Linked DNA regions of Homo sapiens: regions 1, 3, 4, 5 and 6 are each reported to be linked to region 2. The links are microRNA targets in miRTarBase. Many come from high-throughput screens and were not tested one by one. Region 2 holds a microRNA gene; each other region holds the end of a gene's coding sequence.
The links. The annotated mature microRNA hsa-miR-7150 reads CUGGCAGGGGGAGAGGUA and lies in region 2 at 1,772-1,789, shown strand. An mRNA with a match to its seed (bases 2 to 7 or 8) in the 3' UTR can be bound and repressed. Matches are read on the target gene's strand: a 7mer-m8 pairs with bases 2 to 8, a 7mer-A1 pairs with bases 2 to 7 and ends in A, and an 8mer does both.

Region 1: the mRNA of CDNF is a reported target of hsa-miR-7150. The part of its 3' UTR that is shown has no 7-base or 8-base seed match.
Region 3: miRTarBase lists MCM5 as a target of hsa-miR-7150. Seed matches in the 3' UTR shown: 7mer-m8 at 3,149-3,155.
Region 4: the mRNA of SLC18B1 is a reported target of hsa-miR-7150. Seed matches in the 3' UTR shown: 7mer-m8 at 1,572-1,578.
Region 5: the mRNA of PFN1 is a reported target of hsa-miR-7150. Seed matches in the 3' UTR shown: 7mer-A1 at 3,881-3,887.
Region 6: the mRNA of SIRPG is a reported target of hsa-miR-7150. Seed matches in the 3' UTR shown: 7mer-m8 at 1,589-1,595.

What each region holds. Positions count from the first base shown.
Region 1 is chr10:14,815,609-14,820,885 of GRCh38, reverse strand. It overlaps CDNF (cerebral dopamine neurotrophic factor), which reads left to right. Exons shown (of 4, transcript NM_001029954.3): 4 at 728-1,641. The coding sequence ends at 906. Among named protein-coding and RNA genes, the nearest start is that of CDNF, 20 kb to the left of the region's middle.
Region 2 is chr9:123,482,096-123,487,372 of GRCh38, reverse strand. It overlaps MIR7150 (microRNA 7150), which reads left to right and starts at 1,751; the gene lies at 1,751-1,844. All of the region lies in intron 13 of DENND1A (DENN domain containing 1A), which reads left to right. RefSeq lists an enhancer at 4,190-5,055.
Region 3 is chr22:35,422,387-35,427,467 of GRCh38, reverse strand. It overlaps MCM5 (minichromosome maintenance complex component 5), which reads right to left. Exons shown (of 17, transcript NM_006739.4): 16 at 4,127-4,254; 17 at 2,037-3,314. The coding sequence ends at 3,213. Among named protein-coding and RNA genes, the nearest start is that of MCM5, 25 kb to the right of the region's middle. RefSeq lists enhancers at 107-612, 613-1,120, 1,121-1,626.
Region 4 is chr6:132,766,030-132,771,306 of GRCh38, reverse strand. SLC18B1 (solute carrier family 18 member B1) reads left to right here. Exons shown (of 14, transcript NM_052831.3): 12 at 178-271; 13 at 368-417; 14 at 971-1,937. The coding sequence ends at 1,037. Among named protein-coding and RNA genes, the nearest start is that of VNN2, 11 kb to the right of the region's middle. RefSeq lists an enhancer at 2,942-3,101.
Region 5 is chr17:4,941,903-4,947,179 of GRCh38, forward strand. It overlaps PFN1 (profilin 1), which reads right to left. Exons shown (of 3, transcript NM_005022.4): 2 at 4,726-4,918; 3 at 3,750-4,095. The coding sequence ends at 3,998. RNF167 (ring finger protein 167) reads left to right here. Exons shown (of 10, transcript NM_015528.3): 4 at 439-564; 5 at 675-762; 6 at 949-1,039; 7 at 1,277-1,382; 8 at 1,524-1,617; 9 at 2,656-2,736; 10 at 2,813-3,320. The coding sequence ends at 3,114. Among named protein-coding and RNA genes, the nearest start is that of PFN1, 4.0 kb to the right of the region's middle. RefSeq lists enhancers at 2,310-2,853, 2,488-2,537, 3,408-3,457, 3,468-3,557, 3,618-3,787 and 1 more.
Region 6 is chr20:1,625,933-1,631,209 of GRCh38, reverse strand. SIRPG (signal regulatory protein gamma) reads left to right here. Exons shown (of 6, transcript NM_018556.4): 5 at 904-988; 6 at 1,574-2,058. The coding sequence ends at 986. Among named protein-coding and RNA genes, the nearest start is that of SIRPG-AS1, 4.9 kb to the left of the region's middle.

The sequences.
Region 1 (5,277 bases), not on the chromosome of region 2:
GGGTGAAGTCCACCCCCATGATCCAATCACCTTCCAACAGGCCCCTCCTCCAACAGCGGGGATTACAATTCCTCGTGAGATTTGAGTGGAGACACAAATCCAAACCATATCATTGTAAATAGTTGTTATACTGTATTGTTTGTATTTTTTTTTTGAGACAGAGTCTCAATCTGTTTCCCAGGCTGGAGTGCATGGCGTGATCTCGGCTCACTGCAACCTCCATCTCCCAAGTTCCAGAAATTCTCCCGCCGCAGCCTCCCAAGTAGCTGGGATTACAGGCATGCCACCGCCATGCCCGGCTAATTTTTTGTTTCTTTTTTTAGTAGAGGTGTGGTTTCACCATGTTGGCCAGGCTGGTCTCGAATTCCTGACCTCAGGCAATCCTCCCGCCTCAGCCTCCCAAAGTGCTGAGATTACAGGCATGAGCCACCGTGCCCAGCCCTGTTTGTATTTTTTAATTGTTGTAGTGTTATCTTTAATTTGTTTAGAATATTTTTGATCTGCTGTTGGTTGAATCTGCAGATGCAGAACCCACTGATAGAGAGGGCTGCTGTACCACATTTTCCTTGGGTGTGTCTTGGTTTCCATGGAAACTGGAATTCTTCCCTGCCTTGGATCATAGGGTAGTCAGCACCAAGATAAGCAAACTATATGCCTTTTGAAGTGATTCATAGGGATTTTTTTTCCATTTATTTTGTAATTGGCTTTTTTCCTTTTTGCCATTTAGAAAAAACACTGGACTTGGCATCAGTTGACCTGCGGAAGATGAGAGTGGCAGAGCTGAAGCAGATCCTGCATAGCTGGGGGGAGGAGTGCAGGGCCTGTGCAGAAAAAACTGACTATGTGAATCTCATTCAAGAGCTGGCCCCCAAGTATGCAGCGACACACCCCAAAACAGAGCTCTGATCTCCAATGCCAGCACATTTGTGACTTGTAATTAGAGAGAAAAGTGACTCTCTAGGATATGGACATGTTGATTAAGGATAACTGGGAATGCATCATATTTGGTCTCATGCTTTTTGTGTTGGTATTATTCCTCAGAATTTTGTTACGTGGGTTTATGAGTGAAACTAATACTACTGATAACTTACATTTGCAGTGTACCAAAAGCTAAAAGTTCCTTTCTCATAAGTTTCTTGGAATGACTATGCCAGTTTTCATTGCCTGTCTCCTAAAAGTGACCTACTGACAAATTGATGGAGTAAATTGATTCCAAGAAAGAAGAAGGCATTCAGAGACTCCTCTCTGGATGCAATTTTAAAATATATTGGACTAAAACAAAAGACACAACAGTCAGCTTATCTAATGCACAACTTCAATCCCAAATACAGAATCAAAAGTTTTTTTCAAGTGAATTTTCTGTTTTCACTCTATATTGTAGCTCTCTTTGGTATCAGAAATGGTCAGGCAGGAGTACTCGTTTTTCCCATTGGAAGAAAACCCACTTAAACCTACTTAAAGAAAATAGAGAGATCAAGAAACCGTATAAGTATAGCCAATGTTTGGCAATTATATCAACATTTACATTGTTAATTGAACCAAGCTCAAGGTCTTTTTCATTCCTTACAGTCACATATCAGACAAGTTTTTGATGGAAGATTAAAGCATATTAAAAACACTCATAGGCAACTTGGAACTTTACCATTGTTAATGCTATTTTATCAGCTTTCGGTTGTAAAATCATCTTTGGTTCCATTTTCTGGCCACATAAGAATAAGAAACCCACAGTAGAAGTGTCCGCCTCTGTGTGGCAGGTACAGCTGGGGAATACTGAAAAAACATTTCCTTGGAACTTTCTGGAGTGATGGGAATGTCCTATATCTTGATTGACATGGGGATTACATGGGTTAATAACATTGTCATCTGGTAGGATAATTAAGATCTGGGCATTTTATTGTATGTACATAATATCTTTAAAAACTGCTGTAGAAAAATTATTTGGAAATTAACTAAAATTAATTAATTCAACACACCTTGTTTGCTAGGCACAGTGGCTCACACCTGTAATCCCAGCACTTCAAGAGGCTGAGGCGGGAGGATTGCCTGAGTCTAGGAGTTAGAGATCAGCCTGAGCAACAGAGTGAGGTTCCGTCTCCACCAAAAATTTTAAAATTAGCTGCGCATGATAGTGTGTACCTGTAGTCCCAGCTACTCGGGAGGCTGAGGTGGGAGGACTGCTTGAGCCCAGGAGGTGGAGTCTGTAGTGAGCTGTGATCCTGCCACTGCACTCCAGCCTGGGCAACAGAGCAAGACCCTGCCAGAATATATGAAAAAACAAACAAAAAAGCCCACCTTATTTATTCAAAGAATTGCATTTACTGGCTGGGGTTGTTTTCAGGGAGTGGAGGAGACATTTTCAGACTGAAAATATACATCGAAAACATAATTTTTAATTCTAAATGCTGCAGAGGTAAATGCATTTTCAGCTGGGAAGCTGATATGTCAGAGAGTTAGTGGTTCCTAAGGAAATATATATATGATGTAACTGAAAGGTGAGAATACAAAGCTGTGGTGTAATGAATGGTCAAAGTAATTATTGTTTCTGAATTTTGGCAGCTCGATTATCATTTGTAAAGCATCTACTTTATTTTGAATTATATCTTCAAAAAAACCAAAGTTTGTTTTTGGTTGTTTTTGTTTCTTTGAGACAGTCTCGCTCTGTTGCCCAGGCTGGAATGCAGTGGCACAATCTTAGCTTACTGCAAACTCAGCCTCTTGTGTTCAAGTGATTCTTCTGCCTCACCCTTCCGAGTAGCTGGGATTACAGGCGCCCACCACTATGCCCAGCTAATTTTTTTGTATTTTTAGTAGAGACGGGGTTTTGCCATGTTGGCCAGGCTGGTCTTGAACTCCTGGCCTCAAGCGATCCACCCACCTCAGCCTCCCAAAGTGCTGGGATTACAGGTGTGAGCCACGATGCCCGGCCTCTCCAGAGTTTTCTTTTCTAAACTTCTTATAACCTTTATATCTGTTTTTATTTTTGCATTTTGAACCTATCAAGAAATGTGTTGTTTGAAAATATTATGTTTGGTGTCTGACCTCAAAATCGGGTCGCATTTCTATGTCTTTTCTTCAGGATACAAATTGAGGTAATAGAAACAGTGCTCAGCCAGTCATTTGTATCCATGGTGTTTAGTCTGTTTTTTTTTTTTTTCTTTCTTTTTGGACAGAGTCTCACTCTGTCACCCAGGCTGGTATGCAATGGCGCTATCTCAGTTCACTGCAACCTTTGACTCCCAGGTACAACTGACTCTCCTGCCTTAGCCTCCCCAGTAGCTGGGATTACAGGCGTGCACCACCACACCTGGCTAATTTTTGTATTTTTAGTAGAGATCGGGTTTCACTATGTTGGCCAGGGTGGTCTCAAACTCCTGACCTCAAGCGATCCACCTGCCTCATCCTCCCAAAGTGCTGGGATTACAGGCATGAGCCACTGTGTCCGATCTAGTCTGTTTTTTTGTTTGTTTGTTTGTTTTAAAGAGAATTTACATCAGTGCTTCTCAAACTGCACATATGGTGTTTATCACAGCACAATTCACAATTGCAAAGATATGGAACCAACCTAAGTGCCCATCAACTGGTAAGTGGATAAAGAAAATGTGTTTGGCCGGGCGCAGTGGCTCACGCCTGTAATCCCAGCACTTTGGGAGGCCGAGGCGGGCGGATCACGAGGTCAGGAGATCGAGACCATCCTGGCTAATATGGTGAAACCCTGTCTCTACTAAAGATACAAAAAATTAGCTGGGCGTGGTGGTGGGCGCCTGTAGTCCCAGCTACTCGGGAGGCTGAGGCAAGAGAATGGCGTTAACCCGGGAGGCGGAGCTTGCAGTGAGCTGAGATTGCGCCACTGCACCTCAGCCTGGGCAACAGCGCAAGACTCTGTCTCAAAAAAAAAAAAAAAAAAAGAAAATGTGTTTATGTTATCAGGCATAACAAACATAATACAGCATGGAATACTACTTAGCCATCAAAAAGAACAAAATCATTCTTTTGCAGCAACTTGGATGGAAGTGGAGGCTATTATTCTAAGTGAAGTAACTCAGGAATGGAAGACTAAATCTGTATGTACAAACCTCTATGTTCTCACTTATAAGTGGGAGCTAAGCTATAGGGTAAGCAGAGACATAAAGAGAGGTATAATGGCCATTGGCGATTCAGAAGCAGGGAGAGTGGGAGGAAGGTAAGGGATAAAAAACTACATATTGGGTACAATGTATGCTACCTGGTGACAGGTGAGCCAAAATCTCAAACTTCACCACTGTACAATTCATCCGTGTAACCAAAAACCACTTGTACTCCAAAAGTTATTGAAATAAAAAATAAATAGCTGAAAAGTAAAAACAAAAACTGGGCGTAGAGGCAGTCTTGTTAAAGTAGGGGTTCTGATTCAGTGGGTCTGGGGTGGGGCCTGAGATTCTGCATTGCTAATGAGCTGCCAGGTGATGTCCACACTACCCTTCCAGGACCACGCTTTGAGTAGCAAAGGCCTAGGTCAAGGATCCTGCAACTGATACATACTTTTTTCCCTTTGCCAGTATCAACCTAAATAGTAAACAGAGAAAGGCTCTCTAAAAAAAGATGTTTGTTTTGGGAATAGAGCATTGCAATGGGAATACACAAGCCTTAGTAAACTATGCGTATTCAAGGGAGGTAAAGGAAGACAAAGGTTTTTAAAGATAAAAATGAGGGGCTGGGTGTGGTGGTTCACACCTGTAATCCCAGCACTTTGGGAGGCCAAGGCAGGTGGATCACCTGAGGTCAGGGGGTTCCAGACCAGCCTGGCTACCATGGTGAAACCCCGTCTCTACTAAAAATACAAAAAAATTAGCTGGGCATGGTGGTGCGTGCCTGTAATCTCAGCTATTGGGGGAGACTGAGGCAGGAGAATCGCTTGAACCCGTGAGATGGCGGTTGCAGTGAGCTGAGATCATGCCACTCTACTCCACTCCAGCCTGTGTGACGGAGCAAGACTCTGTCTCAGACAAAAAAAAAAAGAGGAGGATTGCATAATTGTTTTGAAATAATTATCCTTGACCACAAAGATCAATCACAAGAGTGATGCTAGTCTGAGTTTGGACAGATAGTCTCCGGGTCAATGCCCTTGCAGAAGAATTTTCTTGTGTGAAGTTGTGATGGCTTTTGTGGAGGATTATGATTTTTGCAGTCTTTTGTGATTGTTTATGTTATCAGGCATACAAGCCTGAGAACCCTCTTTTCATGGCCTCCCCCAGCTCTGTTTTCAGGGTTTTCTTACCATTTGTGACCCCATTCTGATTC
Region 2 (5,277 bases):
GGAGGGGGCAGGTAAACAAACCTGCCAGCTGACTTGGGCCCTAGACTTGGTTAAACCCTGGCTTGCCTTCCCTTGATTGTAGATGGTAGAAGCCCAACTTAAACGAACTTGAGCAAAGAGGATAGGAGGGAGAATTTCTTGGCTTATATAACTGAGACATCCCGGACTTGTCTTGCTACCAGCATGGCTGGATCCAGGAGCTCAAATGATGTCTAGACTCTCAGTGACCTCTGTTTGGCTTTGCTTTTCATTATCTGTTTTATTTTCAAACATTCTCTTGCTTTGCTATAGAAATATGGGGGCCTCTATGGTCCTTCTAGCTTGAAGTGAGTCCCTCTCAACTCCAGTGTCTGTGCAGCAACTCTCAGTGGAGACTGCTCAAGTTAGTGTCGATCACTTCTGGGCTACCCTAAACTCATTGGTGTGACCAGAGGATGGAGTCCTCCAGTCGGCTCCCAGGGTCGCATGCCCACCCCTGTGGCTGGGCAGGGGGTTGGCAGGATCAGTCCCAATGGGAAAAGAGAGTTTTATTACCTATTCCCAGAGGAGTGTAAGAGGCAAATGTGTGGTCAATAGGAGGGTGGAGGGTGCCCAGAAGGTTGGGGGACCATGGAAGGTATGGGAACTAACATATGAGGTGGGGGTGAGGAGTTGGATATCAGGGATGGTTTCACCAAGGTGCTTGCACCAGCACTGGGCTCTAAGGACAAGGAAGATGATGCCAGCACACTCATGCTCAAGGCTTGCTGGCTGGACACATGCCATTTAGTTGGTGCCAACTTTCCAAGAGGCTCCTGTTGGCCATGGCTACAGGTTAGAAGATCAAAGGGGTGCTTTAGGGAGTGGGACTCATGGGGGATGCAGGAGCCAGCTGCTTCCTTCCTGGCCTCCCAGAAGTCTCGGTGTGTATCAAGCTGAGGCAGAAAGATTCCAGGGCTGGGCTAGCAGCTCTGGGGCTGGCGGCAGAGCCCAGAGCCAAGGTGACGCTGTCTGTGAACAGTGCAGAGATGCCCCACAGCGCTGGCATCTAAGAGCACAGTGTTCCGGGGGCGAGTCTCTGTTCCTGTAGCCTTGACCTGGGACACGTTGCCCTCTGACTAGCTCAAGTTCAGGGTGGGGCCTTCATTGGATTTACCTGCCCACTTGCCTGACATTCAGCCTCTCCCCATTTTTACTGAAATTTTAAACGTATTTATGATTGAGCTTCTTTTACAGAGGAGGAAATTAGGGCTCAGAGAGGTTGTGACTTGGCCAAAGCCACAGAACTGAGAAAAGTGACAATGCCAAAATCCATCGATCTCTTCTCTTCCCACCTGCTCCCATGCACCCCACCATGCAGCCAGTGATCTATGGCACCCGGGGTATGCCAGCCACTGAAGATCCAGGGGAATCAACCCCTTGTTCCCAAGTCACAGAGCCCATGGGCCAGGGAGATGGATTCAGAAAATGAAATCTGCTGCAGTGCTAGCTAAATGTTAGCAATGGCTAGAAAATCCAGAAGCCTAGGCATGAGAGTTTAGCCTCCGCATGTGGAGGCCAAAAACAGAGTCTTTGATCCATTCCTTATATCCAGGAAACTTTGTAAAACCAGCACATGCTCCTCAAAGGTGAGTGCAAACTGAGAGCAAAGCGTCTTCTTGGATGCTCAGGCTTCTTTCCCCGGCAGCTGACCCCACACTGCGTGTGTGTGTGTGTGTGTGTGTGTGTGTGTGTGTGCGCGCGCGCGCGTGTGTGTACGCGCACACACACACACGGTGTCCCCTGGTGGAACCTGGCAGGGGGAGAGGTAAGGTCTTTCAGCCTCTCCAAAGCCCATGGTCAGGTACTCAGGTGGGGGAGCCCTGCTCGCAGCCCCGAACCTGATCTGCTGGTGTTCAGCGGAGGAGATTACAGAGCTTAATGATTAGCTCCTCCAAGCTGCAGCTGATGCCAGCCCCTACCCCCTTTACACCTAATTACTCTCATTAATGAGCTCCTCTGCTCTCCATAGAGAGAGTTTCCTCTTTGGAATAAGAGGCAAAAATACCTTGCCCAGGTAGATTGCTGAAGCCTTTAATTATTGCCCACACCTGCTAAGCCTTGTGACTCACACCTAGTGATAGTGCGGAGCTGAAATGGAGCTTGTTTATAATCACGAGCAGATTTTAACTCTTTCAAAGCCAAAAAGCCTTCTGATTTCAAGAGACATGTTTCCCCAAGACCTCACACATGCTCATTTCATGCATGCACGCCAGGCTCTGCTCCCCCAACACTGGGGATCCTGAGGCAGCAGAAGTGCAGCTCCTGCCCTGAGGGAGTGCACAGTCTAGGAAGAGTGACAGGCTAGAAACTACACAGACAATTATAGTGGCTACCACTCACCACTTCCCTACATCAGGTCGCCTGTAGCCCTCGAAATAAAACTTTGAGGCAGATGTTACTACCTCCATGTTACAGAAGAGGGGAGGGGGCGCAGAGGGAGGATGTCACTTGCCCCAGGTGCCACAGCTAGGGAGGGTGTGAGGAGAGTGGGATCAGGTCTGCTGGGCTCCATGGCCAGTGTGCACCCCACTGTTGCCCAGAAGCTCCCTTGCATGCCAGACTGTACTGAGGGCCACAGTGAAGTCACTGCAGGACACGGTGAGGTTAGGAGGAAACAGGACTATGTGAGTAACAACAGAAGGAACAGGAGCAGAGGCTCAGGGGAGAACTGAATGCCTTGTGCATTCGTAGACCTGCAAGCACTCAGTGTGGCTAGAAGGTGCACTATGGGGTGCGGAGCAAGGGGCAACAAGGCAGGAAGGACAGGCAGGGGCCGGGGCAGGGTCCTAAATGCAGGGGAAAGACCCTGGACTTCCTATCCGCTGCACCCTCCCCAGTACCTCACAAAGCACCCAGTACATAGCAGGTCAGTACATGTTGATGAATGGAGGGACAGCCATGCTAAAGGCATGATAACCATTGAAGGATTTAAGCAGGGGAGGGACAGTACCAGAGGGCTGTCTGGAAGAATCTCTGGGCGGCTTACTCTCTGAACACTGAGATTCAAGGGCAAAGTCCTCACCACAGCCCTTTGCCCCAATCGAGAGGTCTGCGCTAGGCTGTCTAGTTGCTCAGTGTTAGAGGTGCGATTAAACCCAGATCTTTGTGTCTGCAAAAACCCAGCTCTGTCTCCTTCACCTTGTGTCCTGCTAGATAGAAGATAATATACTAAATGGCTTAGAACAGAAAGACAAGAGTTTCCCACCATGGCTGCTAGGATTCTGAATGAGAAACTTTCAGGATAGGAGCACAGGTTTCTAAAACACCAGAGCTGCTCAGACATAACCAAGTCCCTCTGACCAGATTTAGACAGATTGTTAGATGAATTGATGTAATATTTAATAGCATGTATGGCATGGCTCCGATGACCAGGAGACACTAACCCGTTTGCTACAAGTCCTAGGAGACTAAAAATCATTTTTAAAAAAACACAAAAAAAACTAAGCTGTGTCTCAAACAAAGAACAACAACCCACAACTGAGTCTCTCTTACACATCTGGCCTTGGGGCAGGTACTTTATGTGAAATCTGTCTGTGCCTCGCAGCAACTCTGGGAGGTAGATGGAATTATCCCCATCTTACAAACGAACTGACCTGTGACTTGGGGAGCTAAAGACTTCCCCACAGTCACATGGATAATGAGCGACAGAGCCAGGAGTCTCAGCCCAGCCTGTCCCACTGCAGAGCCGGAGCCACCCCAGGACACACTGTCCCTCAGAAGCTATCCATCACAAGACATCAGTCACCACACATGGAACCCGGAACAGACCCTGGCAGACTTGGTGTGTGCATGCGTCTGGTCAGCCCAGAGCTGGGGAACCCAGCAAGTGCTAGGCCTGGGAAGCCTGTGTGTTCTGGATAGAGACTGTCTGCACACAGAGGCTGGCCTGCAAGACCCAGGCTTTGCTCTGCTTGGGATTTGTCTCCTGAGTTCCTGGAGGCTGCCATGGTGGGGGTCATCTGGCAGCCAAGGGAGGACTGGAGCAGCAGCGGCGGCATGGCCCCCCAGCATCTCTGGACCACCATCGGCATGCCAGCCCCTGCTCTTGGGGTAGGGATTCCAAGGTACTGAAAACATAGTCCCTGCATGGGGCCTCTGCTGGACTCTTAGGAAGGAGGAGACCCTGGCGAGTACTACCTGGTCCTACTTGCCTCTCCAAAGCACTCAGTGTAGTAGGGGGAGGTGGTCAGTCGGCTAGATCCATCAACTCTTGCATCCAAGTCAACTCTTGTCTCCTAAAGCCTCTCTTGAATTCCTCCCTTTCCATTCCTGCCTGGCAGCTGCCTCAGTGGACACAGTGCTTCCTTGGCAGATCACTGGCCTCACTGAGATCAGAATGATCCTCTTGAAGTGCAAATATCTACACTCCCTTCCCCCAGCCACCCAAATTTTAGGGTTCCCTGTTGCTTTAGGACAACATGACCTAAAAAGACCTGCATGATCCATGCCCAGGCTTGGTTGGAGCCCCTCCCCCTCTGCTGTCCTGTTCCAGCCTCTCTCATTTCCCCTGGCACTCCTCCATCCCACAGAGGCCTGGGGCTTCTGCCCACCTTCCCCTCTGAGCACACAGGTTACTTTCCCAGGAATGCTTTCTGCAGCCTCCAGGTGTCTTCTTGGGACCTTGTTCTTTGTTCTCTGCACAGCAGGAACCTCTGCTTCAAGGCCATTGTCCCAGGGGGTAATTGTTCCTTTATGGGGCTGCTTGACTATCCTCAGGTAGCTGACTGTGATAGCTCCAGGGGCTGATACCCAGTAGGCTCTCAACAACTACTCACTGAATCAGTGAATGAAAGGCAAAAACAGCCACCCTTCCTCACAAATTTGGGAAAGGCTTCCCATAGGCAGAGACCTTTGAGTTGGGTCCTGAGTCCATGTTTGCCAGGCCAAGGGAATGATAGGCAAGAGGTATTTGATTTGACCATGTGTGTGTTTGTGTTAAAAAATAAAGATAATGGGCCGGGTGCGGTGGTTCACGCCTGTAATCCCAACACTTTGGGAGGCTGAGGTAGGCAGATCACTTGAGACTAGGAGTTCAAGACCAGCCTGGCCAACATCACAAAACCCTGACTCTACTAAAAATACAAAAGTTAGCCATTCATGGTGGTGCACACCTGTAATCCTAGCTACTTGGGAGGCTGAGGCACAAGAATCACTTGAACCTGGGAGGCAGAGGTTGCAGTGAACCAAGATCGCGCCACTGCGCTCCAGCCTGGGCAACAGAGCGAGACTCTGTCTGAAAAAGAATAAAGGCCGAGC
Region 3 (5,081 bases), not on the chromosome of region 2:
GTTTAAATACATATGGATAATAGTTACAACACCCAAAAACATAAAACCTTCTTCCATGAGCTGGTCTCTGGAATGCTTAACTTTCGCATTTTAGAAATTCAACATTTTTGTAATTTTGTTGCTTACAGGCAAGAGAATGGGACTTTAGGCTGCTCTTTATAAGCATTCTCTAAATAACATATTTGAAGTATGGGCCATCTTTATTTCCAATAAAGAGAAACCTAAATTGGATATAGCCTTTGCTATGTTTTCCAGCACTGGGTTTGTAAGTCCCTGTGCTCTGTGACTTTGGATCTGGTGGCTGGAAGCTCACAGGTCTGGTGAAGATCGTGTAGTTAGCATGTGTATCCTCCTCAGTGATACCTGCGCTTAGGCTTCCTGTCTGACACCAGTGGCCCACAATGGGTGCAAATTAAGTCATATGTGACTAAGGACAAGCAACATGGTCTTAGTTCCCAGATCAACAGAGGTGGTATCTGTGAACAGAGAGAGAAACCAGGTAAAAGGACTCCATCATGAGCAAGCTTGTCTGCTCTCTCCTTCCCAGACCTGGAACTGGAGAAGGGGTGGAGCGGCTCTCATAGTGGTGAGCGAAGTTGAGAGACCCATGCAGCCAGGAGTAGAGTGGGGCAGGGAACACAGCAGCAGAGGCTCGGCCTCTGCTCACACAAAAGCATGAAAAGGTGAAATCCGAGATGGCAGAGGCTGTGAGGCAGGGAAAACCACAGGCACCCAGCCCTTCCTGGGAGCACCTCCCCGGGGCCAGGCCCAGCTGCTCTGATGTCTACCCCCTCAGTTAATCCTCACAGCCACCCCTGGGTGAAAGGGCTACTGTACTGCTGTGCCCTTTCTACAGATGAAAGGAGGCTGAGGGGTGAAGTGATTTGCTCAGCAGAGAGAAATGTCCGCTGGGTCGCGGCCTGTAGCTGGTGAGGGTAGGGACAGATCTGAGAAGACAAGCCTAAGGGAGCCAGGTCACAGGTGAGTGAAGAGCTCAGCCACCCTGAGTGGCAGCACCAGCTCGGGAATCCAGCTCCCCCCCTTGCCCCACCTCCCTGCCTCTCTAGGTGTCACTGAGGCCTGACTGGAGATTCCACTAAGCCGAGCCCCAACTATTACTCAGCCTGAATGCTCCCCTCTCCTGGCCTCCCTTCAGGCTCTCTCCTCAGCCTTTGCTTTCCCCAACAAGCAGGTGTTTCCCTGGCTCAGGGGCCTCTCTTCATGCTGCTGCCCCGATCTGGAAGGAGACTGGCATGCTCTGAGCACAGCTGCTCCTCCTATGAGCCCTACCCCAACTACCACGGAAAAGCCAGTCGGACCCCCTTTGGCCTCTCAGTCCTGTGCCTGCCAGTCAGGCCACCTACCCCTGGGAACCTACCCCAGGGTCAGTCTCCCCCACCTGACTGGCACCTGCCTCCCCCAGGCCAGGACTGTCTCTGCCCAGCATCCCACTCAGGCCGAGGTCAGGGACTGCCAAGAGAGAATCTGGCAGAAAAGGTGACATGGGTGGAGTTCGGAGCCACCAGGTTTGAAGCCTGCCCTGCACTCCCTCACTGTGACACTTGACTCTCTGAGCCTCAGTTTCTCCACCTGTAAAACAGAGGTGACCACAGCAGCACCACCCACCACAGGGGTGGAGAAAAGGCCACCAGCAAAGTTGCCACTGCAGGGTGAACCTCATGAGAGTTCCACACTCCATGAACAAGCAGGACGGGAGGACCTTGGGCCTGAGATGCACGCGAGTCCCCACCTGAGCAAGATGAAAGGCTAGCAGGAACCGGAGATGCAGCCTTGGATGCAAAACCCACAGCGCGCCCAGTAAGGTTGCCACCCCACCAAGAAAACAAAAGCTGTTCCAGACACTCTCAAAATTATCAGAAAAGAAATGAGCTTTGAACGGGAGTGAGTCAGAGGAAAGCTGATTTAGCTCCTCTCATCTCTCCATTTCCCCGAACAGTATGGAATCAGAAAGGGCTTTGAGCTGCAGGAATCTTCTGCACAAAAATACATTTGTGATTCAACAATGACCAGGCGGATGCACCAAGCTTTCTTGTATTTTTAGAAAAATCAAATAATCTTACTTCAAGTTCGTGTCATTTTTACATGGCAATTACTTTTAAATACCTTATCTAATGTTCCATAGATTTCCAAATTCACGTTTTGCTTGACACTTTGTATTTCTAAATGTATTTTAAATATCAAATATTTTATTTCACTGATTTCTATTTAATTTTATGAATCCTAGCTTTTTTAAAAACACAAAACATACCAACTCAGAGTGACTTTCTGAAATTAGGCAAAGTGACCGAGGCACTTGGCAACACTCCTTCCTCCAGCATCACTGTCACTAGTGCCTTCTGTCATTCAATCCTCACAACTCAGGGTGAGGAATCCCCCCATCTCCAGTTTACTGATAAACTCAGGCACAGAAAAGTGAAATGTCTCGCCCAAGGCCACACAGTTACACGTGGCCCACCAGGAAAGAACTGGCTGGAGTCCTAGTTCCTGCCTGGTGGCCACTACATTCCCCTCACTAACAGCTGCTCACTGACCCTAAGCACAACCCTGTGAAGCAGGTTCTAGTATCAGCCTGCTTACAGATAAGGAAACTAAGGCATGGAGAGGGTCCATGAATCCAGGCAGTCTGACCGCCGCACCACGGCTCGCAGCCCCCCAATAAGTTACTGGGGAACAGGTGAGGCGGATCAAAATCACACACTTTGAGAAGCGCTTCCCCACTCCCTGGTCTCACTGGATTCCCAGCATCAAGGGAGTGGCTTTATGAGCCCCGCTAAACAGATGAAGAAACCGGAGCACTCAAGTCACGTGACTTACCCAGAAGTCTGAGTGGCAGATCCAAGTCAGAAACCCTGGCCAGTCTGCCTCCAGACCCTGTTCCCTCACACTTACCCTGCCATGAGGGCACGATGGAGGTGACAGGTCACCGAGTGCACAAACCCACAGATACCTGAACACACCGTGGCTTTATTATTAACGGATGCCAAAAGCACACTTCCCAGAACCGCGCTAGAGGCGGGCGCCCAGAGGCAGCAGGACACTACAGCTCCTTCCTCTGGGGCAGAAAGGAGGGTGCCTGGGAAGTTCGAGGGCTGCAGTGGGGAGGCAGAGGTCCCAGCAACATTGTCAATGGCAGGCAGCGGCAGGAGGGGCGAGGCGTGGGCGAGTCCATGAGTCCAGTGAGGCGGCGCGACTCACTTGAGGCGGTAGAGAACCTTGCGCTGCATGCGATGCTGGATCTCGCCGCGCCGCAGCATGAGCTGCAGCACCTTGTGGATGGCGTGCTCCGGGTATTTCTGTGGGAGCACATGGCTGGCTAACGGCACGTGCTGCCCGAGGGGACTCCGACAGAGCCCAGACATCCCCAGGCTCACGGGGAACTTTGTACTCAGGCTCCTTTGACCTAAAGGGCCCACACTTCCTGAGTGCCCACTGTGTACCAGACACTGAGGCACACGGAGGCTAAGCCACTTGCTCAAGGTCACAGCAATTAAGAGGTAGAGCTGGGACTTAAGTCCCATCTGACTCTAGAACCGAAGCTCTAAACCTTTCTCTAAGCCTCAGTCTGCGCACCTATAGAATAGACACGATACCACCCATTAAACTGCCCTGAATCAAAATGAGATGATGTACAAGGAGCGGAGACCAGAAACTAGGATTAATCCTGAGATTTTAAAGGTGACAGGTTTTCCAGAGCATCTGGGAAATCCCATCTTCTCTCTATGGGGCCAACAGTACCCTCCTCAGTGAGCCAGAAAGCTCACTCTCATGGCTCTGCCCCTTCCCACTCCATGAAACGCCCGCCAACGGGGAAAGGCACAGACGGGAAGGGCTGCGGGGAACTTGTATGGGGTTTCACCAGAATCCAACCACCTCTGCTCTCCCCTCCCCTTCGTGGGACAGAAAAAATACCCCCATCCCTGCTCCTGATGAAGATGTCCCTAGGGAAGGAATGATGGCTAGAAAAGGTCTGAGAAAGGGACAGTTGTCCATCCTACCCCCGTTCAGGGCCTGTCTGCTGAGTAAGATGCCAGTGCTGAGTGGGTGGGAACCAGCAGAAGACCTGCACCCCGTGCCGGCTCACACCCCCACTCCAAGGCAGGCTCACCTGCTTGGTGAAGTCCTTGATGATGCTGTGCTCAGACACCTGGGAGCCAATGGCAAAGCGGCGCTTGAGCTGCTTCTCGATGCGGCTCAGCATCTCCTGGTCCTCCTGGCTGGTGAAGCCCTCCACCCCTGTGGGCATGGAGAAGTGAGGCAGCCGGGGAGCTGGGACAATGGGAGTTCTTGGACAGAGACAGCCTCTAGCCCAAGGAAGAACAGCCTGAGCCAGGCCCCGAAGAGTAAGTCAGAAAAGGGCACCGAGTGTGCCAGGGTGGTGCAGGCCTGATTGAGGAGACAGGATATGGCACATGTGGGGACACTCCAGGCCAAGCACAAAGTCACAGAGGCAGGAACACACCTGTCTCATTCAAAAAGCAGCCCGGGGCCCAGCGCAGCAGAGACATGGCCAGAGTGTCACTAGGGACCAAGTCCTGCGGGCCCTTGGAGGCCACAGCAGGACTCCTTTTGTTGCTGGAGCAGATAGATTAGAGAGAGAGTTGGAAGGGGCCCATCAGTGACCCAGGAGGGAAGCCAGCCTGCCCTGGACACATCTACGAGGTGCCCTGAGGAGCCCTCGGCAACCAGGAGGCTCGTGACTTCCAATTACTGCCACAGAGGCCTTGGTGTTTCAGCTAAGGAGATGGTGGGCTCATGGTCAAGAAGTCATTGAGAGGGGAGTCTGTGAGGCAAACTCCTACATAGCCCATAAGACCCAACTCAAATTATCACCACTCCATATCACCCCTGCCCTCTGTGCCTGCAGCATCCCAGAGGCCTCCACCTGCAATGTCTCATGTGACAGCAAGTGTCTCCAGGGTAGAGGCTGAGTCTTCACCAAGGGGGACAGGAGGAACAGGCCCCACCCACCCCATTCCTCACCCAAGTGCCTCCCCATTCAAATGCACCAAACCTGCTCCCTCCTGGGGAAACTGACACTTAGCGCTGCCTCCACCTGAGCA
Region 4 (5,277 bases), not on the chromosome of region 2:
TCATTATCAGGTAGAATTATTTTCTTTTACTGAATGCTGTGCCCAGGAATTAGCTTTATCTTTAGTACTTATCTTCCAATGTAATGAAGACTTACAATTGAAGGATCATGTAGCTTTTCATGAAGTAATTATTTATTTTTTGCACTATTGAATACTTTTTCTTCTTTCTATTGTTAGTGCTTTTATGGGACCAACGCTGGGTGGATTTCTGTATGAGAAAATTGGTTTTGAATGGGCAGCAGCTATACAAGGTCTATGGGCTCTGATAAGTGTGAGTAATCAGTCTTTTATTTGCATTTTCCTTATATTTGTGGAAAAACTTGACTTGGAAAATTTACATTAATCAGTACTTTTAATTGTGTTTAAGGGATTAGCCATGGGCTTGTTTTATCTACTGGAGTATTCAAGGAGAAAAAGGTATGGTCAATTTTGGGGCTTTTTTTCTCTCTTTAAAAGTTAGCCAGTGCAAGTGGAAAATAAATAACATTTTACATTTATTCTTCCAGTCAGTGGATTTCTAAGCACTCTGAGGCTCATCAGTTGGTAGATACTTTTTTAATTTTTATTTTTTGAGATGGTGTCTTGCTCTGTCACCCAGACTGGCATGCAGTGGCACAATCTCAGCTCACTGCAACTTCTGCCCCCCGGGTTCAAGCGGTTTTCCTGCCTCAGCCTCCCACGTAGCTGAGATTACAGGCATGGGTCACCATGCCCAGTTAATTTTTGTATTTTTAGTAGAGACAGGGTTTCACCATGTTGGCCAGGCTGGTCTCGAACTCCTGACCTCAAGTGATCCGCCTGCCTCTGCCTCCCAAAATGCTGGGATTACAGGCGTGAGCCACCATGCCCGGGCAGTAGAAACTTTTTTAAAAAGATAGTTGGATGGAGATACAGGTACTGGTTTTTTGTTTGTTTGTTTGTTTTTAAGATGAGAAATATTGAGATTCATCTCTTCTTTCCCTCAATGTAGGTCTAAATCTCAAAACATCCTCAGCACAGAGGAGGAACGAACTACTCTCTTGCCTAATGAAACCTAGTCCGATGGATCCTGGATTGATACAAGGTTGAGAAATGAATGCTCCTGGCCTTAAACATCACCGTAGGAAGGGTTTTTAAAATTTTACGCGCAAAACTCCGTGGACCCCGTGCCAGTGTCTTGGAAGTGTCAACGTGTTTTTGGATGATCCTGTATTGGGCTGTACTTACTGTGATACTGAAAAGCTGTCCTGCTGAAGCAGCTATATTTGAAATATTAAGTATGAAAGGAGTAATTAAAAACAAGCAAAACAAAACAAGACTTAGTTTTTAAATGACCAAACTTGTCCTTAAAGATGTTGTTATTAACTCGAGTTAGTTCTTATTTCCTCTGTTTATTTTTTATTCTAAGTACACTGATTCTGTGAATGTACCTTTTTTATTAACAGGGAAAGAAATGAATTAATTTGATATGCTCTAAATACATAAAGGTGCTTCAAAATATGTAGAAACATTACTATGAAATCAGTTTTTAAAAGATATACTTTCTCTTTGTCCTGAGGTTTTTCGGTCTTGTTCAAAAGGAAGAATTCTTGCCTGCCATACAGAAACTCTCTAGCACTCCCTGACCTTAAGCTTTTCTAAAAATTCTGTTTGTGTGAAAAGTACAAGAATAACAATACTTACAACTTCCATTTTTGTAACCTACGTTCACTTATGATCTGGATTTATAAACATTACTTGGTATAACGTTTTTCATTTCCTTTAATGTCTCTGTTTTTTGGCTCTACCATCTGTTTTGTTTTTGTTTTTATCTATATCTTGGTAGATGTATTTCATCCCTAGAGCAGGTCAGCCTCCTTCCCCTAATGCGAATGCTTGTTTTGTTAGGGAAGGGCTTCCTCCAACTTCGTGTGAAATTGTGATGTTGAAGTGAATAAATGTCTATTGTGTAACTCTCATGCTTCTTGGTCTATTTTCATGGTGTAGTAGCCACATTTACAGTAATTTTTTTAAAGAAGAAATGGTTTTATCTATTCATTCAAAAATATCTTTTGAATGTCTTCTCTGAGCTGACACTATGCCAGATGCTAGGGATTTGGCTGTGATCAAGATAAACACAATCTCTGCTTTTATGTAACTTATACTGGTGGAAGAGACGAACAATAAATAAATATCAGACTCTCCAATTATCTTACAGAAATGCTAAGAAGGAAAAAAAAACATGGTGATGTGATAGAGTAGTTGGCTGGGTTTGTTTAGATATGGGTGCCTAATTTGAAAAAGTCCATGGAAGTGCGACCTTTGAGTTGAGATCTAAAGGAAGAGGATGTAACCACCATTCATTCTGACAGGGGACAGTCCGTAGTATGTGCACAAGGGCTTGACATGGTCAAAGATGAGGTTTGGTCTGCTGGCTGGAGTCTAGTAAACTGGAGGCGATGCCAGAATCTGATTCACATTTCAGAAAGTCCATTCTGTCTGCATGTGGACAGTGAGTGGGGATAGGGACGGTAAAGGGAATGGAGGGGGAGCTTTGGAAGATTTGAGAGAGACAATAATGGTTTGGACCAGGGAGCTTGTGATGGAGAGAAAAGGCTCTATCTGGGAGTGGAACCAACAGAACTTGCTGATGTGGAGGGAGGAGAGGGGAATCTAGGAGGACTCCTAGGTTTTGGCTTGAGGGTGTGGGTGGATGGTGGTGACTCTTAGTGAATTGGGGAATAGGAGCAAAACGGATCCTGAAGTGGCAAAAGTTCAAGCCACCATGGGATGTCATTGCACACCACCAAAACCAAAAATATGGAAAAGGAGGACAATACCCAGGGTAGGAGAGGATGGCTTTGGAAGACTGCCTGGCATTGAGTGTCAAGACTGGATGTACATCTGTCTTGTGATCTCTTCATTTCCCTATCCCCTCAAACCTTTCACTCTTGAACCTCCAGAGGGCGATCCAATGTCTGAGGAGGACAAATGGCCTGCAATTCCCTTCCCGGAGCAGTGCCAGGACAGAGTGTGACCCTGGCCCCCTGCACCCATGTGGCATGCAGATCTGGGCCTTGATTGCCTTAAGTCATCCTGGCCCCCTCCAGGACTTTTTTGACCTTCATGTCCACCCACGCAAGGACAGCCGCCCTTCCTCAGCCCGGTGGTCTTGGATGCGGCTGAGTGCCTGCAGTCCCTGCCACTGTCACTTGGGGCCACTATTAAAGCATGAGTCTGCAGCTTGCACCTTCCTACCCACTATCTGGGCCAGCCTATTCTGTTACCAGCACAGTTGATTGTTGAGAATTCAAAGTCAACGCAAGGATTCGAGGCTCTCTGGGGAGAGAACTTCCTTCATCCCCATTCCCAACACACGGCTCTCAATACTTCCCTTGGATAGCAGTGTATTTAAAGATGCTATGTACAAAACCAAATTTACTCCTTTCTCATTTTGAAATTTTGCAAGTATTAAGATAAGTGGGCCGGGAGCAGTGGCTCACGCCTGTAACCCCAGTACTTTGGGAGGCTGAGGTGGATGGATCACGAGGCCAAGAGATCAAGACCATCTTGGTGAAACTCCATCTCTACTAAAAATACAAAAGTTAGCTGGGCATGGTGGTGTGCGCCTATAGTCCCAGCTACTTGGGAGGCTTAGGCAGGAGAATTGCTTGAACCCGGGAGAAGGAGGTTGCAGTGAGCCGAAATTGCGCCACTGCACTCCACCCTGGTGACAGAGCAAGACTCCGTCTCAAAAAAAAAAAAAAAAAAAAAAGTCACAGAAAAGTTTAAAAAATATGAGAAAAGACAGAGGAAAGAACACTTTGAACAAGAAAACCAAAAGGTAGGTCAAAACTATCAAAGGAAATCTCTGTGTATGTGTTTGTATTTTTATATATTTATAGTCTTCTAAATGTAACAAGGCTGAGCAGCTTAAAAGAACCTTTTTAATAATGAGAATATTCTATATAACTGAATGTGGAATATGTTAGTAATAAAAGGAATCTTTTATGTTAAGATCATATTGCAACCTATACATTATAATATGATACATAAATCAATCCAAAGGAAAACTAAAAAGGTTAAATACAAATCACAGATCATTTTTAAAAATTAAACTTTAAAAATTTTGAGATAATTGTTAATTCACATGCAGTTGTAAGAAATAATAGAAAAAGATCATGAGTATTCTTTCCCTGGTTTTCACCAATGATAACATCTTGCAGAACTATAGTACAATAGCACAACCAGGATACAGAACATTCCCATCGCCACATTCTTCACGTTGTCTTTTTGTAGCTACACCCACTTCCCTCCCATCTTCACTTCTGGCAGCCACTAATCTCTTCTCCATTTCTATCATCTGGTCATTTCAAGAAACGTATAAATGAAATCGTATTGTATGAAACTTTTTGGATTGGCTTTTTTCAGTCAGCATAATGCCCTTGAGTTCTATTGGCATTGTTGCATGTATCAATAGTTCAGTTCTTTAAATTGCTGAGTAGTATTCCATTGGGTGGCTTTAAGACACAATGGAATACTACTTTATTTGTTACAAATAAAGCAGCTATGAACTTTCAGAAACAGGTTTTTTGTTTGTTTGTTTGTTTGTTTTTGCCAGGGGCGAGGGTAGAGGGTGGGATATGAAGCATAAGACTTCACTTCTCTGGAATAAATGCCCAGCAATACAACTGCTGAGTTGCGTGATAATTGCATGATTAGTTTGTTTTCAACTAACTCATTTATTTTAGATAAGAAACTTGATTTTGACAATAAATATTAAATATCACGCATTAATGAAATATCTGGTCAGCCATGGTGGCTCATGCCTATAATCCCAGCACTTTGGGAGGCCGAGGTGGGCGGATCACCTGAAGTCAGGAGTTCAGGACCAGCCTGGCAAACATGGTGAAACTCCATCTCTACAAAAAAATACAAAAATTAGCCGGGCATGGTAATGCCAGCTACTCAGGAGGCTGAGGCAGGAGAATCGCTTGAACCTGGGAGACGGAGGTTCCAGTGAGTTGAGATCACGCCACTACACTCCAGCCTGGGTGACAGAGCAAGACTCTGTCTCAAAATAAATAAATAAATAAATAAATAAATAAATAAGAAATATCCTATTTACTTATTTGTTTAATGATCAAGATTTAAATACGTCACAGATACCCTCTCTAACCTAGCTGGAAAAGATGTGGATAATAAATTCTTATATAGCCAATCAACTTTCATTAAGTGCAATTAATAATTGAGAAGTATCTCTACACATTCATATCAGAAGGAAATTACCCACAGGGTAGTCCCATGATACTCACCATT
Region 5 (5,277 bases), not on the chromosome of region 2:
CGAGACTCCATCTCAAAAAAAAGAAAAACAAAAAGAAAACTGAAGGGAGGGGAGTGTGTCTGTATGAGTATGTGCTGGAGAGGGGACTGTGAAACAGAACTTGAGAGAAAGTGACATGGGTGGTTTGAGAATTGAATTACAATTGGAATATTAGAAGGCAAAAATAATTGCATTAGCTTGCAGTATAGGGTACAGATTAGCCCATCTGGGACAGCGAGAGGGATGATGGGAGAGTTTGGTGAAGGGATGTTTTATGTCATTGCCTTTTCAAGAGGCTAAGAGAAGGTTGTGATGGTGGGATGCTCACTCAGACCCCAGGAAGGAGGAGGAAGTGAGGATAGAGGATGTGCAGCATGTGGGCTGGTGTGTTTGGTGGCCCCTGTAGAGAGCAGAATCTAGAAAGGAGAAATCTCACTGTTGTTTGCTTCCATCCTTCAGGGGTTCCTTGTGGAGGCTCACCCAGACAATGCCTGCAGCCCCATTGCCCCACCACCCCCAGCCCCGGTCAATGGGTCAGTCTTTATTGCGCTGCTTCGAAGATTCGACTGCAACTTTGACCTCAAGGTTGCTGAATGAGGAAGGGGAGCTGGGCAGCTGAGGGTAAAAAAAAGGCACCAGGAATGAAGACAGGTAAGGCCCATGATGGCTCCTTGTCCTCTGCCTTGTCTCCCTAGGTCCTAAATGCCCAGAAGGCTGGATATGGTGCCGCTGTAGTACACAATGTGAATTCCAATGAACTTCTGAACATGGTGTGGAATAGTGGTAAGGCTGGGGGAATCTATACAGCTGGGCTTTCAGTAGGACCCAGAGATGGTGGGAAGGCTGAAGGCCTCAGGAAAAGAAGCCAATCCTTTAGGTGGGGTGGGGCCAAAGTGCAAGATGCCAGGGTTCCCAGAGGATTTGAGTAGAAGGTTGTGAGTCCCCAGAGTAACACCTTGATCCCTGCAGAGGAAATCCAGCAGCAGATCTGGATCCCGTCTGTATTTATTGGGGAGAGAAGCTCCGAGTACCTGCGTGCCCTCTTTGTCTACGAGAAGGGGTAGGACATGTGCCTCCTTCCCATTCTTCCTTCAGCAAGCAGTTCCATGCCAACCTGGAGCCCAGGCCTCCTCATTACCCGAACCATTCAGCCTCCTGTCCTTCCTTCCCTGCCTCTTTGACTTTCTTCCCATTCCTGTCCCCACCTATGGGCTTTGTCCAGAGCCAGTTACTTTGTCCCTCTTTTTTTCTCCCTTTGCCTTTCTCGCCCTGCTGAGACTGGTCATCCTTTTCCCAGGGCTCGGGTGCTTCTGGTTCCAGACAATACCTTCCCCTTGGGCTATTACCTCATCCCTTTCACAGGGATTGTGGGACTGCTGGTTTTGGCCATGGGAGCAGTAATGGTGAGTAGCTGAGGGAACATGATGGGAAGCACTGAGGCCTGTGAGGCCAGACTGGATCTGGAGTTGGGAGATGGGAGTGGCTTGTCCTAGATTGTCTAGTTTTGTTCCTAAGCCTTGTCCATCCACCCCCGCTTCCCCCAGATAGCTCGTTGTATCCAGCACCGGAAACGGCTCCAGCGGAATCGACTTACCAAAGAGCAACTGAAACAGATTCCTACACATGACTATCAGAAGGGTGAGGGGGTTAGGGGAGAAGAGGGCTTTTCCCACAGTTTACCTGGTTCTGAAGGACTTTGAGCCCAGAAGATAGGGTATACAAAGATGGCAGTGGCCGGGCACAGTGGCTCACGTAATCCCAAGTGCCTCTAATCCCAGTACTTTGGGAGGCCAAGGTGGGCAGGTCACTTGAGCCCAGGAGTTTGAGACCAGCCTGGGTGACATGATAAAACAGAAAAGTCCCAGCACTTTAGGAGGCTGAGGCAAGTGGATCCCTTGACCCCGGGAGTTCAGGCCAGCCTGGGCAATGTGGTGAGACCCCATCTCTATAAAAAAATAAAATTAGCTGGGCATGGTGGTGTGCACTTGTAGTCCCAGCTAATTGGGAGACTGAGACAGGAGAATCACTTGAACCAGGAAGGCGGAGGTTGTCGGGGGCTGAGATTGCACCACTGTGCTCCAGCCTGGGCGACAGAGGGAGTCCCTTTCTCAAAAAAATAATAATAAAAATAAAGATGGCAGTAGGAAGGTTTCAGCTTGAGATGCTGTCTTTTCTTCTGTTTTTATGCATAAATACAACGAAGACGGGAGAGGAGATGGAAAGCAAAGATGATTAAGTGAAATAATTGTGGGAAACAATAGAGGGATAGACTTTGCTTATAGGGGATGTGGACAGAGCAGAAAAATGGGAGGAATGGGGAGGATTCAGTTAGAGAAGGAAGAAACCGGTACCAAGGGGCTGGGGCTTTAGGCCCTGGGGCCTCCAGTGCCCGTATAAGGCTGTGGCAGAAGCCCTGCCCATTTCCGTTCCTTCCACTCCCTATCTCCACCCTCACACCTCCCCAAAAACCCACTTCCCTTCTTACCTCTGCTTCTCTTTGCTTGTCCCTTCTAGCCCTAAATTCTTCCATGTTCTGCCCTGACCTTATCCTGCCTACCTGTCTTATCTCTTCCACTGGCTTTGTAGGTGAGGGGAAATTTTTGCAAGGCTTTAAAAGCCTTAGCCCTGGGTCATTGTGGCTCAGTGAAGGACTAGATTATTTTCTTTCTGTCCCAGGAGACCAGTATGATGTCTGTGCCATTTGCCTGGATGAATATGAGGATGGGGACAAGCTGCGGGTACTCCCCTGTGCTCATGGTGAGGCCCTCACTGCCTGCCCATGCCCCTCTGCCACCAGCAGCCACCAGGTGCTTCACCTTGTTCCTCTCTGCAGCCTACCACAGCCGCTGCGTGGACCCCTGGCTCACTCAGACCCGGAAGACCTGCCCCATTTGCAAGCAGCCTGTTCATCGGGGTCCTGGGGACGAAGACCAAGAGGAAGAAACTCAAGGGCAAGAGGAGGGTGATGAAGGGGAGCCAAGGGACCACCCTGCCTCAGAAAGGACCCCACTTTTGGGTTCTAGCCCCACTCTTCCCACCTCCTTTGGTTCCTTAGCCCCAGCTCCCCTTGTTTTTCCTGGGCCTTCAACAGATCCCCCACTGTCCCCTCCCTCTTCCCCTGTTATCCTGGTCTAATAACCCCCCACACATACACCTCTGGTGACCTATTTGCACAGACCGTCGTCTTCCCTCCAGTCTTCTGAGGGATAGGGGACATTCCATCCCAAGCTTCTCCCTTACCCACACCTATCCTTTTGAGGGGCTTTGGGGTGGAGCTGGGGCAAGCAGAGGGACTGGGTCTTCACTTCTTGGGCTAATAAAATTGTTTCTTTGTGGACTAAGGAAGGGTAAGATCATTCTCACACAGGTGAACTTAACCCTTTGGTGGAATCACCCCTTTAGCCATAAGGAGCAAGGGAATGCTGAGAGACACTAACCTATAGTCATGGGGACAGCCCCAGCCGGCATTTGCTATGACTCAGAAGGGGGAGCCCCACCCACAAGGATGACTCAACTAGCCCTGCCTTGCCTGCAGGCCTGCACCCATTCTCTGGTCCAGATGGCTCTATTCCATCATCCACCAATTTGACCAGCACACTGAGGACTTAGGCCTGGAAATGCCACTGTGGAGGGGCAGGGCCACCTGGCCAGAAGCTCAAATTCCTGCACCTTGTAGTACCTCAACCTCCCTGCTCCCAAGCCACGATAAAGGAGGCAAGTCACAGTGCCTATCCCCCATTCTGACACCCAAGCTCAAATCACACAGCACCTTGTTAGTAGAATCTTTTTTATTCAGAAAAAAAAAACCCCAAAAAACAAAAGTTTTCCAACCACACACGGGAGGGATATGGGTAGGGGGAGGTGTCTGTCCATCCAGCCCTGGCCCCCAGCCCATGTGGTTTTGGCAGCAATAAGGGGTATGGGGTAATGGCCCAAAAAATAAAATGGTTTGTGTGTGTATGGGGAGGAAAGGGGTGCAAAGCTGTGGGGAGCGGTGAAGGGGAAGGGACAGACGAGGTCAGTACTGGGAACGCCGAAGGTGGGAGGCCATTTCATAACATTTCTTGTTGATCAAACCACCGTGGACACCTTCTTTGCCCATCAGCAGGACTAGCGCTGGAGGAGGAGGAAAGAGAAAGGAGGCTAGGATCCAGGTGTCACAATTCCACCCCCTGCCAGCTGTTCAGCAGCTGTCCAGCCCTGGGGGCTGTAACCCAACCTCATCTCTCCCAACCCGCCCCCCCACCACACACAGGCAGGCTGTCAGTCACCCTGAAACAATAAGGCTTTTCAAAAGAGGAAAATCAAGCTTAAACGCTGGAGAGGAACAGACTAAAAACTTAGGGGTCAAAGGCTCATAGACTGTTGATTCATGTGTTCAGGCTAGAAAGGGCTGTGGATGTGCATGCCACCTCCAGGTTCTAACAAAAGAACTCAAACGATGAACTCGATGATTCAAGACCCCAACAATCTACCTATACTCCTAGAAAACAGTTTCTAATCCGAGCTCAAGGCAGTAAGTAATTTAAGAGGTAATGCAGTTCAGCAACTTCGAATTACAAGATGAGGAACTGAGACAGAATGGAGGGACTATCCCGTGTTCCAGCATCCAGCAGACAAGGAACACAATACTGGTCTGACTCCCTTCATGTTGGGGAATCACACAAAAAAGCACCCTCAAGATTACCAGAAGGCGGTACATTAGAGATCTTGGAGCTAAAGGAAGGGTAAGACTCAGGAACTCACTCTTGTCAGTCTTGGTGACAGTGACATTGAAGGTGGGGGCCCCACCGGTGCTCTTGGTACGAAGATCCATGCTAAATTCCCCATCCTGCAGCAGTGAGTCCCGGATCACCGAACATTTCTGGCCCCCAAGTGTCAGCCCATTCACGTAAAAACTTGACCGGTCTTTGCCAACCAGGACACCCACCTCAGCTGGCTGGAAGAGGAACCAAGCGCCCATCAAGTTAGTCAGTGCACCAAGATTCCCACCGTGTTCTCCAAAGACCCACCTGTCTTCCACTTCTGAGAACCACCCCGCCGTGGGGGCTAAGTATAAATTATATACTCAGTACACATCAATGAACTGTGAGAAACTCTGAGGACTGTGGGACGTTAGTGCAGAAAAAGATCATGATTCTGAAACTTAGAATATGGAACCAGGGAGGAAGGGATGACATACTCCTCTAGAGATTTAGATGTCAGTGTTAATGGGGAAAGTAAACCCAGGAAATAAAGGGAGTCAGTGAGGTAAGTGAGGAGCCTTTGGATGCTCAGAACTCTCCTTCAGGAAAAGCA
Region 6 (5,277 bases), not on the chromosome of region 2:
CTTAAGGACCCACCAGCACCATTTTATTTATTTAAAATATACTGTAATATCTTTAATGGCCCAAACTGCTCGCGTTAAAAATGTTGATTTTAAAAGCCTGAACTGCTCATGTTAAAAATGCAGCGTCCAAACATGTGCTTCCCCGTAACTGAGTGTGCCCAACTAACAGAAAGATTTCAGATGACACCTGCACTGGGGTGGAGGTGGCCTAGGTGACATCTGAGGCCCTCCCAAGCATGAGACCCATTTCCGTGACTCACCAGGATGTTTTCTAGCCGGAAGGTTTCATTATGTCCAGTGTTCCATGGCTCCTCCAAGTTCTGAGAACACGGAGTCCTCCCCTTACTTCTGGGGCTAAGCAGGGAACCTGCAACTCTCATTGTGAAGCCATCCTCAAGCCACCTGCCTACCCTTTTATAGTCATTAAAATGTCCCTAGGAATTTGGACTTGTTTTGTTCCAAAGGACATGGTCTCAGGGATCAACCTAAGGAACACTAGTGATGAGCTTCTTTAGGTTTGAATGCAAGTAACCTTGTGACCCTCCCTAAAATCCATGGGCCTCAGTTTCCCTAGCAGAATGGAATGACAATCCCTGCTCCCATAGGCTTGTGAGGGTCAAGTGAGGAACCCCGTTGCCACATGTATGAATACCTGAGTACACACCCCCTCCACCTCTTCCCTCCAGGAGAATAAGCTGGCAACCTGGGACAGGATGAGTGAGAATGGGGAGCCTCTTTCTGTGGCTTCTGCCTTGTGCTGGAGTGAAGATAGCCTGGGCAGGATGCAGGTTCAAAGGTGGGGCATAGATGGGCCCAGGCAGCCTCAGATGGGGTAAGTGGAGGCCCCTACAATGGCCTCCCAAGTGGTCTCTCTCATAGCCCCTCGTCTTCCCTGATTTCCAGGCCCGGCATCATCCCTTACTGCGCTGCTCCTCATAGCTGTCCTCCTGGGCCCCATCTACGTCCCCTGGAAGCAGAAGACCTGACTGTAAGTACAAGGAAGGGAGGACAGACCAAGGGCTGTCTCAGAAGGGCAAGGCCAACAGGAAGGCCCAGCCCACATGCCATGCAGCACCAGGGTCCGTGGAGTTAAGCTCCCTCCGCACCCTCGGAAGTCTTGGGGAACCCTTTAAAAGGCTCCCAACCCACAGAAATTATGTGGGTGGTGTACAATGTGGGATGCTTGAAATGTGTTCAAAGATGTCCACAGTGCCCTAGGAGTTTCATGGAGGCAGTGATGAGTGGGTGGTCCCTTGCAGGCTATCTGTAGATTATTTGAATGCTGGGACTCCATGGGGTCAGAGAAATCCACATTGTAAACTAATGTTGAGAAACCCAAATGGGAAGCCCTGAAGGCTGTTTGTGCTCTGACCCTCTGTGTGTCTGAGTGGAAGGAATATTGGAAAGGGCATCAGGACTTGGCAGGATGGCTGAGCAGGCAGAGTTCTATCAGGACTGCCTGTCCACCAGTGACAGGTATCCCAGGAGACCAGCCCCGAGAACATAACAGACTCTCAGGAAACATGTCTTGAAAGATGAGCAGATGACTAAGTGTGGATGTGTTTTCCTACAGCTCCTTCCTTCCTCCCCTGCCACGTGGGACCCTCATCTCTGCTGCCTCCTTCCTTTCCTGAGAGGCTCAGCTTGAGAGAATGAGCCAGTGAGAAGCTTCTCTAGACTTGGCTCCAAACATCTCCCCTCCCAAGACATCTGCCTGCCCACAGGCTCCTGTTGCTCCTTCACACAGACCTGGATGCCCCAGAGCAAGGTCTTCATTCATGGTCCTGAGCAGGTGCCATGGGATTGGGCTCTGGGCACTGACTTAACGGCACCTCCCTAGAAGGCGAGAAACATGCCAAATCTAAACACACCAGGACTCCCATCCATCGCCTTGAGACTGACCGTAAACCACAGACGCTCTCCAGGTTCTCAAGAGTTATCCTGCCTTCCAGATTCCTGCCTATCCCAACTCCCCAGCCTTGTTGAGGTTCTCTATTGCCTCTTGAATACAAATGCACTCCCAAAGTGGTTTTAAGAAAATAAAAAGATTATCCTTCCTCTTTGTCTAAGGGTCCTACTCCTCACACTCAGAAACAAAGAAGCTCTCCCTGCTCTCTCTGTGATGGGAACACTAGTTCTAGCATCCTGCAGGCTTCCCCGCCCTGCTGCTCATGGCGGAAATGCTGCCGCAGTCCAAAAGCCTCCTTGACTCCCGAATCCTCCCTGATGTCTCTTTACACCCCATATTCAATTCTGCCTTCAAAATACTTATGTCCACTCGTGAGATGGTAAGTGTTTAAAAATGGACTCTCTTAAAGGAAAAAAAAAGCTGATTTGTTGTACTTGACAATTTCTGTGGTATAATCACCCCCAACATGGCCAGTTTCAAGCTACCAGAAGTTTAACAACTGGATTGCAAAATTCCTGAAACTTAACGGTTGGCTTTCAGGGGCCAGTCCAAGCCTGCTGCAGGAGAGCACTGAGTTACATCCCTAACCTGCACACTTCTCACCTCCATCACCCCTCCCTGTCCCGGCCAGCATCATCTCTTCCGGGAACACTTCTGTAGCCTCTGTTGGCTTTCATTTTTCAGCTACAGGGATTTTTGGAAAAGTCAAATTGTATCACTCCTCTGCTTCTTCCCCAACACAGCTGCATGGCTCCCTTCATCCCTCCTTCAAGCCTCTGCTCAATGTCACTTTATTAAAGGCACCTTTGGCAAACCACCCTGTACATAATATCAATTCTCCTGTCTACCCTGGCATTCTAATTTCTCTTATCTTGATTAATTTTTATTTAGCATTTATTACCATAAGCATTATAACGAATACAGGCAGCCCTCGCTTTTCACAGCAGTGCAAGATTGCAAGAATGACTGTGCAGCCGGAAACCCAGGAAAGCAATCTCCACATCCAATCAGAAAAACAATGATCATATTGTGACCTTTACAATTTTTTGTCAAAATATAGGAAACTCTCATAGTGTCAGTTACAAATGTAGAAGGCAATAAAAAATAATAAATGAATATTTATTAGTACCCTGTAATTCAAAACATTGGAAACATCAAGTGTTTCAGTATTTTATTTCTTTGTAAAAATGTTTCAAGAGTAGTTGGAAGAGTGCTTACCTCCTTCTTGTACACTTCGGATATGGAGCAAACATCCTTTCTATCTGGGTGTTTTATCACCTTCCTCTCTAAGTTTGGATTTGTTTCCAGCACCTTATCATTTGCACTTTCAGTGTCGTGAAATCTCTGCAAAAGTTCCTTTCACGTGAAGATTTTTGCTGTTGTCACATCCTCAGGGACACCTTCGCCCTATTTGTCAGTACCCCATCCCGTATCTGTTAAATTCACCTTCTCTAAGTCCTGCGGGCTGCCTATCTGAAGTTTTTCAAACACTACCAGGGTCTACGTTGCCTCACCAGCTATTCATGCTTCTATAACTCCACTGACATACAATTTGAACTTTATCTCCAGCATTTTCACTGCTCATTTATTCACTGCATTTTCACTGTGGTTGTCCAATCTCTCTTTCAATTATTTGTTTCCCAAAAATGTCACATGGGCTCATCACCAGTTACATGAGGTTGCAGTCTTATGTGAGCCTGTGCCCCTGGCCTGTGGACTTCACAAGTGCCTCTCAGTTTTTTCCCCTATGGTGGGACAGGATGGCCAGAGGGGGCTGGAGTTGGGTGCTTGCCTTCCCCAGGTAGGTTAGGCTCTGATCAAAGCCCAGCAGATTAGGCACTGGTAAAATAGTTTCTCCTGAGAGCTGGGCTTGGTAAGAAGAAAGAATGCTCTGGTGTAGTTCAGAATGATTCGCTTTCCCCTCCACACCCCCCAGGAAGCACAAGTGAATGTTTCTCTCATATTCACTCTGAGCACCTAATCAAGCTCCTGGAGGTAAATCTCACAACAGTGTTGGAGTTCCCTGCGATTGGGTCCTGCTGGAATCTGTTCCTCAGACTGGCCCACACCAAGCCTCTAGCAATTCTTCAATTACAGTGCAGGTTTTCCTACCCTGGCACTGGTTCCCATGGAGGTTTTGGCTTCAGGAAGTTGTAATTCTCTATATCATTTTGTCTAACTTCCAGTTTTGGAGACAATGGTCTGCTCTGTGACCTCATTTCTCTGACAGACCTGAGAAGAGTTGCCATTTCTTATTTGCTCAGCTTGTTACTTGATGTTGGCCCTAGGGACTTTTTGCAGGGGACATCCAGGAGTTTTGGTTCCATCCTTAAAGGCTGCTACAGTAACAAGACCTCAAACTTTCCACACCCAGAATTACAGTCTCTGAAAATCCAAACTCAGTCCTTAGCTACAGGGCCCTGTGGATCAGGGCTGTCAACTGAGGAAGGGCCAAGGGAACCCTGGCATGAAGTGAGTGCCCCTGGGACAGAGAGCAGGCCCAGAGCAGTCAAACTGTCTCCACTACTGTCCAAGGCTCCCAGGCGTGGGAACCCCAAGGTGGATATCAGCAACTTCCCAGGGGTGGCAACTCTGCCTGCTTCCTCTTTTACTATGAGACCATGCCAGTCTCGTGGCCTTTTCCTTCCACAGCAAATTCCCTCCTCAGATATCATGGCAGGTGGGGCTTCTCCTTCCCTGCAGAGCTCAGAGGCTGGGGTCTCTCCGTGATAAACTTTCAACAGAGCAGGCAATGACCATACCTGTCTTCCAGCCCACCTGGACAACCCTTGCCTCTTTATGCTATTGGGACTCACAGGTGAGAGCAGCCTGTTCTACACAGGTGTATTTATATGTAAGTCTCCTCACCCTCTCAGCCCATCTCACCCGTATCTATGGATTTCCATTTGGGAACATTTTCTTCTCTCCCATCCCAGCAGGAGACAAGATTTGGAGTACACTTTCCGTGAGCATCTGTGCAGACTCTTACCGGGATTTGCCTTTCTTTAGTCACAGTGATTTCCCGAGGTCATGCTTGTACCATGACCCAGGTGCTAGTAATGACTTCGTGATTATAGGGCTAGACACGTGACCCACACTCATCATGTGGTGGTATCTGCACATCCCCCAGCCATTGGCCAGGGTTGTCGCACTGCATCGTAAATCCTCGAGGACAGAGAGTCTGTTTTTTAAAGGTATTACTATTGCCAAAACACCACCTAATAACAATAACATCTAACTTTTGGAGCACAATCAGCAATTATTAAGGAATTTACATATATTAATCCATTTTATGACCATAACAAACCTCTGAAGTTGATACGATTACTTCCATTTTATATTTGAGAGAACTCAAGAAACAGAGATGT